Regions from separate parts of the Homo sapiens genome. Here region 1 is linked to region 2. Evidence: fine-mapped expression QTL. A gene starts in region 2. The other region holds a variant in brackets. All regions are shown on one strand. Distances are between the middles of the regions. Region 1 has its middle 6.6 kb from the start of LINC02606. Region 2 holds the start of SPSB1 (splA/ryanodine receptor domain and SOCS box containing 1).

The links. PIP is the estimated chance that this variant, and not a neighbour inherited with it, causes the effect. A credible set is the group of variants that fine-mapping cannot tell apart.
Region 1: its variant is the best candidate, but not a certain one, in a credible set for the expression of SPSB1 in whole blood (TOPMed, PIP 0.67).

The regions. Positions count from the first base shown.
Region 1 is chr1:9,420,220-9,424,597 of GRCh38, reverse strand. No RefSeq gene overlaps it. Among named protein-coding and RNA genes, the nearest start is that of LINC02606, 6.6 kb to the left of the region's middle. The variant C/T (reference allele first, on the strand shown) is at 2,209.
Region 2 is chr1:9,291,046-9,295,423 of GRCh38, reverse strand. SPSB1 (splA/ryanodine receptor domain and SOCS box containing 1) reads right to left here and starts at 2,530. Exons shown (of 3, transcript NM_025106.4): 1 at 2,353-2,530. RefSeq lists silencers at 1,596-1,885, 2,426-2,495, 2,566-2,645, 2,696-2,865.

The DNA of each region.
Region 1 (4,378 bases), 130 kb before region 2:
TTCTCTCCTGGGAGTCCTCCACCACCTTCACCCCACCCCCACCCCATCCCACCCCCACCCCATTGATGCTAAGCCTCTCCCTGCTGTCCAGGATCTCACCACCTGCAACCTCCAGCTGGATTTGCCTTTTCAGTTCAAGGTCTTGACTCTTGACTGATGTTTCCCCGCAAAAGCTGACATTGCAGAGTGACTTCGTACAAGCCATTGTTCCTGGCTGGGAATCACCCGAGTTCATTCATGAGAAGGTCCCGAGTGATCTAGGACTGTTTGTATTTTTACCCAAAGAAATGAGTCTTTTGGGATAATTTCAGGCACAAAGAGCAGTCTGGCAGGGGAGACATTTTTTATTTGTTGCTTTAGTTGGGGAAGTAAGCCTTTGGCTCACCTCTAAATTCCCACTGCTCCCCTCCCACTGTAGAAAGCTGGCAGGATGGTTGGAAGCAATGTGGGGCAAGGATTCTCAAACTCAGCATAATTATGGCCTGAGGAACTTAAAAAATGCACATTCCCAGGTCCTGGCTTTCAGTCTCTGAACTACATTTTTTTTTTTTTTGAGACAGAGTCTCATTCTGTCATCCAGGCTGGAGTGCAGTGGCGTGATCTCAGCTCACTGCAACCTCTGCCTCTCAGCTTCAAGCGACTCTTGTGCCTCAGCCTCCCAAGTAGGTGGGGCTACAGGTATGCACTGCCACGCCTAGCTAATTTTTGTATTTTTAGTAGAGATAGGGATTTTGTCATGTTGGCCAGCCTGGTGTCGAACTTCTGGCCTCGAGTGATCTGCCTGCCTCGGCCTCCCAAAGTGTTGGGATTACAGGTGTGAGCCACCGTACCTGGCCAGAACTACATTTTGAGAAATACTGGTTTTTGTGGCAAGAGACACAGACCTAGGTTCAAGTACTATAATTAGCTGTGTGACCTTGAATGTGATCCTTCTGAGCTGCAATGCTCTTAGCTTTAAAACAGGAATTAAGCCTATCTCCTCCACCTCATGGGAGATCATCAGCAAACGTGCTTCATGCCTGTTAAATGCCTTGGCATGTGGAAGAGTGCCATTTTTATACTAGTGCCAACCATGTGCTGTAGAGAAATACAAAGGAAGGCACAGACCTGGTCCCAAGCTCAGAGAGAAATTCCTTAAATCTTTGGGGCTGGATGTAAACTCATCGGCACTATTTTGAGTGAAGGCTATTGGCCAGAGTGGAAGGAAGTGTTTTCTATCTCATGCATGCTGGTGCCTCCCAGTGAACAACACAGCAAAGTCTACAGAGCGTGTCAGGAGCTTGAATCAGGTGTGCCAGGCAACGCTATGGTAACAAACAGCCCCTGGGTCTCAGTGGCTGAGCCCAGCGAAAGCTTACTTCTTGCTCATGTTGTCTGTCCCAGCAGGTCGGCAGGCAGTTGCAGTTCTCTTCCACAGACTCACTCAGGGACCCAGGCTGACGGAAGTTCCATCAGCTGTAGCTGCACCATCTGGGACACACGGCCTCCATGGCTGCGGCAGCTGGGAAACAGACCCTGGAGAAGGGCGCACCAGCTTTTTACTGCCTCAGCCTGGAAATGACACGTATCACTTCTGCTCAATTTCATCGGCCAAAGCTAGCCATATGGCACAGCTGGGAAACCCAGGGGAGTCAACGGTCTGTGTAGTGAACATTATTGTTTCTGCCACAGAAAACTTCCAAGAGTAGGGAGATGAGAGAGCTTGCGGTTCAGATTTCCAGTTTGGGCACAAAGACGGATGTCTCCTAGAGAGAAAGGGATGGGAGAGTCCTCTGTGGAGTGGCTTCTGTTCCCTACATCCCAGAGAGGCTCAGCTTTTCTGGCCGATGGAGTGCAGTTTTATTTGTTTGAGAATATGTTTTGTTTTCTTCCTTTTTCTCGTTCTTGCTTACCCTCAAAACATGGGAAGAAAAGCTGTCTGACTCAAACAGCCAGCAGTCTGGTCCGGGCCCCCTAAGATGGAGAGGCGCCATTTCCCAGCAGGCCAAGAAATGCCCCGGGAGCTCCAAGGGTTCTGTGGGTCCCGGGATGAGAGGCTGACACAGCCAAGAAGACCCAGGGTGAGGCTGAGCGGAGGCTGAGGCGGCATGCCTGGCCGCCCACACTGCCATCCGTCCTAGCGCTCTGTGCAGAGCACGGCTGAAAACTCCCCAGGTATCTTTGGAAATGAAGAACACTGGGTTGGCACCCGGCAATTTGGGACAGCAG[C/T]TTTTCTGGAGCGCACAGCTTGGGAATAAGCCTGAAGAAATCTTTCATTCCTAGAGCGTTGGTGGATAAATGGTACTTATTTGTTTAACCTCAAATCAAGCCGCAGCCCCCATTTCTGGGGCTGCTTTGCGAGGGTTGTTTTAAAATAGCTGAACAAGCTGAAAATCACGGGTCTAGGTTGCTGGAATGGCTTTGCAGAGAGCAGCCGGGCTTAGGAAGTTCTTTAATTTTCCATAGAATGTGACTGGCAGTGGTTGGGGGTTGGGGTCGGGGGTAGGGGGAGGGAGGTGAGCTGTCGGAGAGGAACAAAGCCTGGGCCCTTCTTCTAGAAGGGTCCGTATTGGCTGAACAATCTCTGCAGTGGATTCAACCTGGTCTGGTCCCCTTGGGGGTTTGGGGTGGGATGTTATCTTGGAGGACTCCTTCCTGAGGTCTGCTGCAGGTGGCTTTGAATTCAGCAGAGTGAAGTTCCTCGGTTATTCCTGTCTGACTGGGGTCAATTTCCTCTTTTATTAACGGAACAGCTCTTTCCTCAGGAGAACCTATTTCATGGATTTAGGTAGGACTGACTCGGTAGTGTACATAACTGTTTAATGGCCAGCTGGGGGCAGGCAGAGGGGACAGGGAGGAAAGCCTTGATTTGTAGCATTTGCCAATTTCCATGGTGTAAATACTCCCCCACTACCAGCTTCAAGCTACAGACATAACATCACTGAGACGTCACTGACCTTGGACTCGGGAACAGATGAGCACACCCAGCTCTCACAAACACATCCCCGGTGCTGATTTTACCCCATCCAGGGCTGGGCACATGACCCAAAGCTGCCCTATGGGAGTTCCTCAGGGCCATCAGAGGAGACTGCTCCTTTTCTTAGGCATTGCTAAATAGAATGTTAGTTGGGGACTGCCAGCAGCCATCTTGCCAGCTCTAGAGAGAGAATTTGGTTGAGAGGGGGAGAAAGGGCACCCATGACATCCTCTGAACCCCTGAAGCCAGCCATACCTGAAGCTGGTGTATTCCTGGACTTTCCAACTACACACATCTCTAGCCCCTCTTCTTTGCCTAAGTAGTGTGGGCTGAGTTTCTGCCACCTGCCAATAAAATGCCAAGAATAAAAAAAATGGGTCACCCATTCAAGGAAGCCAATCTAATAGATCTGGCTTTATCTTGATTGTGGTGGTTTCCCAGGCATATGCAACTGGTAACATTCACTAAGTTGTACACTTTCCGTTACTGCAGCTTCTTGTAAGTAAATTCTAGCTCAATAAAACTGTTAAACATATAAAAAACATATTTGGGCTGTGTGTACTGGGGAGTGTGTGGATTTTTCTATATCAGTTCTGCCAAGCAGAGGGCCAGGTAGGAAAAGAAAATGAAACTAGAAGAACTGTTGTACCACCAACATCAACCACCAATATCTGCTTCGACCTATACTGAGATTTTTATCCACTCATGAACTTACCACCTGGGACTTTTTTTTTTTTTTTTTTGGTCACCCAGGCTGGAGTGCAGTGGTGCGATCTCAGCTCACTGCAACTTCCGCCTCCCGGGTTCATGCCATTCTCCAGCCTCAGTCTCCCAGGTAGCTGGGACTACAGGCACCTGCCACCACGCCTGGCTAATTTTTTTGTATTTTTAGTAGAGATGGGGTTTCACTGTGTTAGTCAGGATGGTCTCAAACTCCTGACCTCGTGATCCACCCGCCTCGGCCTCCCAAAAGTGCTGGGATTACAGGCAGGAGCCACGGCGCCCGGCCTGCCACCTGGGACTTCTTAGAGAAGAAACAGATGAAGAAGGAAAGCAGTACCTCCCCTGGGAGTGGGAGAAGCAGAATCTTCCCAAGGTGAGGCTGGGTGTCGCTCCCCCTGCAAGCCTTGGAAACCAGCCAGAGTTACCATCATCCTTTATCCATTGAAGTCAGCCTCGCAGAGCAACAATGCTGAACCGTGCAGAAGTGGCAGCCCAGCAAAGTTTCTGTAGCCTGGCTTTCTTTGAGAAGGTGATGAAACTAACCTGACATTAATCCATTCTGCCTTTCTTTCTTTGGGGCCTGAGGACAGGAGAGTGCTTGTAATCCCAGCACTTTGGGAGGCCAAGGCAGGTGGATCACCTGAGGTCAGGAGTTCAAGACCAGCCTGGCCAACCCCATGGGCAAAACCCTATCTCTAC
Region 2 (4,378 bases):
AGGTCTCTCTTAAGCCGGCATGGCACCCGCCTTGCTCCCTGCTCGGGGCTGTCTGAGCCACTGGGGCCAACATGCTACTGCTTTTGTTTTCTCTGCTGCTAGGGTGGTAGCCAGACTGGAAAAGGAAGACTTGTAAAGTGATTGCCTTAGTCCACTCCACACCTCCCCAACCGCACGCGCGCACACACACACACACACACACACACTCACACTCTCACACACACACACACACTCCATCTACTGGGTAAAGTGCTCCCTGCAGAAGAAAAGCAGCTGTAAGAGAGCAGGAGTGCTTTAAATGATCTAATCCAGCCCATCACTTCACAGCTGGGGAGACACGAAGTGCCTGGCCCATGACCTCAGTGCTGGGGACAGTAACCAAGAGCAACAGTTTCAGGACTGGGGAGTCTTGGTCCACAGCCCTGGCTGTGCAGTCTGGGTAAGTGAACCGCCCTCTCTGGGCCTCTCTAGGACAGGCTGGCCTAGACAGTAAGACAGGACTTCCCTGACTCCAAAATTCCTCAGTGTGGAGAGACCACCTGTGCTGCCCATGCTTAGCCCAGGGCTTTCCACCACTGGGAGGGGGGTCTGAGGAGGGGGACAGGGCAGAAGGGAGAGGCCCCCATCCCCTTCCTTGCTTGCTGTTCTCCTCACACCCCACGATGAGAAATGAAGTTGTGGGCCCAGCCCCCCCAACGAGAAAATTCTTCCAAGGACATCAAACCTTAGTCACCAGGGATGGCGCTTTTACCATGAACACCTGTTAAAACTCAACTCATGACCAGTTTCTGATGCTACAGACTGGAGTGTTTAATTAAATATTACTCACTCAGGAAGCAGCCCCTGCCAACTCACCCCCAAACTGTGTAGTTCATTTTCAGAGAAATGGAGAGAGGAAGAGCCTGCGCTCTCCTCGGGGGCACCAGCAGGGCTTGCCTAGTGGGGTGTCTGTGGCCCAGCATGCCCGGCTATCCAGAACCAAGTAAAGAAATCACCATGAGGAGCAGTACCTAGGAACCAGAGGGCCCCCTGGATGGTCCCCACACACACTCACAGAGAAACACACACAAAGACACACAGACACACACTTGGAGACACACAGACACTCACACATACACAGACGCACTCAGAGACACAGACACAGAGACAGACACAGAGACACGTGTGGACACACAAAGAGACACAAAGACACACACACGCAAAGACACACACAGACACAAAGACACAGAGACACACATTTGCAGAGACAGACACTCAGAGACACAAACTTGCAGAGACACACACCCAAAGACACATACACACTCACACACAGACACACACAAAGACACACAGACATACACAGAGAGGCACACACAAATACACAAAGACGCACTCAGACACACACACACACACACAGTCACTTAGAGTCTCAGGCACACATTGACAGACACACAGACTCACACACACACTCAGAGGCACATAAATACACAGATGCACTTAGAGACACACTCACACACACACCCACATGAACACACAGACACACTCATACGCAGGCACATATTCACAAGGACATGCACAAACACACACGCAGATGCACTCTCAGAGACACCCGCTCTTCCTGCAGACCCGCACCCTCCTCTCGGGGCCGTCCCGTCCTCACCGGAACCTGGACGCCACCGAGCCCAGTACACGCCCGGGGACGGTGACCCATCCGCGGTTCCTCCCGCGGGCCCAGGCCGCCCTTGTTTTTCTGATTTAATCGATTTCCTGACAACCCTCCGGCTCTCCCTCCGCTGCTGGGAGAAGCCGCGGCGGCTCCGGGGCGGCGGGGAGGGCGGCGCTCGGGTGTCCCCGGCAGGCTCCCTGGGGGAGGCGCTGCGGGAGGGTGGGGGCGCCCCGACGGGGGACCGGGCCGCGCCGCCAATCCCGACTCGGACTGGCGGGAAAAGCGAAACTAACTCAGCCGAGCGGGGTCCCGCTTTCCCCGGGCTAAAGGGGGGACGGGTCGGCGGCCCCGGAGCGCCCCAGCCCCTCCTCGGGACCGCAACTCGTTGCGACGGTCCCCGCGCCCCGAGACCCCCGCCGCGCCTCGCCCCGGGACCCCCTGCCCTGCAGCGGCGGCAGCGCGGGGCGGGCCTGGGCCCCTCTCCCAGGAGCCGCGGCGAGGGAGGCGCCCCCGGAGCCACCGCGGGAGGGGCCGCGCCCCGAGTCCCCATCCCGTACTCCACCCGCTCCCCCGCGCCCGGCCCCGCGCCACCCACTCGGTCCCCCAGCGGCGCGATCCCCGCGTCCGCCCTCGCCCGGCCCCCCGCGCCTCCCCCTCCCGGGCCGGTCGCCCACCCATCGGGGTCCCAGGTGCCCCGCGCCGCCTACCGCGCCCGGGGTGCCGCCGCCGCCGCTGCTCTCCAAGGCCGAGGAGGCTCGGGCGCCCGGGCCGCGCCCGCCGCAGGGAGCGAAGTCGCCTCCTCCCCGCGGCCCCGGCCCCGGCGCCGGCGCCTGGAGCCTGGTTCCTGCTGCGAGCGCGCAGGCTGCCCGAGCGCGACTTCTGTGCGGAGGAGAAAAAGCAACCGACGGCTTTAAAGTGAAAAAAAAGAGAAAAGCGCCGGTGGGCGGGGCCGTCCCTGCCCCGCCCCGCCCCGCCCCGCCCCCGACCTCGGGCGCACGGACCACTCAGCACTGCAGGGAAGGCCGGGGGCGCGGGGCGCGGGGCGCGGGGCGCGTCAGCCCGGCGCTGGTTCGGCCGCCCCCTCCGCCCCCTTAGTCCGCAGCCCTCTCCCGAGCCGCCGCCCTGGTGTTGCCGGCCCGAAGCTCGGGTCCCTCCGGAGGCGTCTTTGGGAAACGCGTGGCGCAGGGCCTGGGTTGCAGCCGTGGGAGGCTGGAGTGGGGGCGGGGGTCTTACGAGAAGGAGAAATCTTCGCGGAGAGTGGGGTTGTCCCAGGAACCCCGAGCAAGGCCTCGCCGGCCTCCTCTGAAGTGCCCAGCGGGGACGAGTGGGCAGCCGCCGGGGGTCCAGGGAGCCTCCTGCAGCGCTGTTTCGGCCGCTCGCGTTTCGGTGCCCACGGGGACGGGGGCCTCGGACCTCGAGACCCTGAGGGCGCGGGCACCTGGCATCCGCAGGGCTGCTCCCTGAACAGGTCCCAGCCTCTGGGGACTTGTCCTGTGGCTCTAGCTCGTTCAAGGAATTTTCCTCCCCCTTCCCCGAACAGAGCAGTCACTTGGGACTGGGAAGATTTTAAAGACTTTGCTGTTTTGAGAGCAAAATCTCCTGGCATTCCCCACCCCTCGCTGTGTAGTGTCCATTGAAAACGGTGAGGAGTTAGCCTTTCTGGGGGAGCCGAAACAAATAGCGGGGCTTCCGTAGTTACTGTGTCTTTACCATAACCCAGTACAGTGAGGGTGGGACTAATGACACACTCACTGTAAAGGCGAGGAAACAGTGCCTGGCCCGAGGCCAGCTGTCCAGAGCTTGGAACCCAATTGAACTGTGAGATTACAAAGTTTGATGTCTCTCATTTTACGGTGCTGAAAATCAGTTTGGTTTAGCTTTGTTTGAACTCAGAATAGGATTACGGAGACTCAACCAACTGCCCTGGGCTGGGCGGGCCTGAGTGGGCATTCTGACTTTCCAGGTGCCAGCGGTTTAGGAATGTTGAACCCAGACTAGTCAGGTGGGCAGCCATGGCCAGCAGCTTAGGGGTGCTTCCCATTTAAAAGATCACTTGAGGCTGGAGGTGGTGGCTCTCACGCCCTTAATCCCCACACTTTGGGTGGCTGAGGCAGGCAGATCACTTAAGCCCAGGAGTTCAAGAGCAGCCCGGGCAACAGAGCAAGACACAGACTCTGCACAAAAATTAAATAATAATAATAATAATTGGCCGGGCATGATGGCTCACACCTGTAATCCCAGCGCTTTGGGAGGCTGAGGCAGGTGGATCACCTGAGGTCAGAAGTTCAGGACCAGGCTGGGCTTGGTGGCTCACACCTGTAATCCCAGCACTTTGGGAGGTCGAGGCGGGCGGATCACGAGGTCAGGAGATGGAGACCATCCTGGCTAACACGATGAAACCCGTCACTACTACAAATATAAAAAATTAGCCAGGCGTGGTGGCGGGCATCTGTAAGTCCCAGCTACTTGGGAGGCTGAGGCAGGAGAATGGTGTGAACCCGGGAGGCAGAGATTGCAGTGAGCCGAGATTGCGCCACTGCACTCCAGCCCAGGTGACAGAGCGAGACTCCGTCTCACAAAAAAAAAAAAAAAAAAAAAAAAAGAAGTTCAGGACCAGCCTGGCCAACATGGCAACACTCCATCTCTACTGAAAATGCAAAAATTAGCTGGGTGTGGTGGTACGTGCCTGCGATCCCAGCTACTCGGGAGGCTGAGGCAGGAGAATCTCTTGAA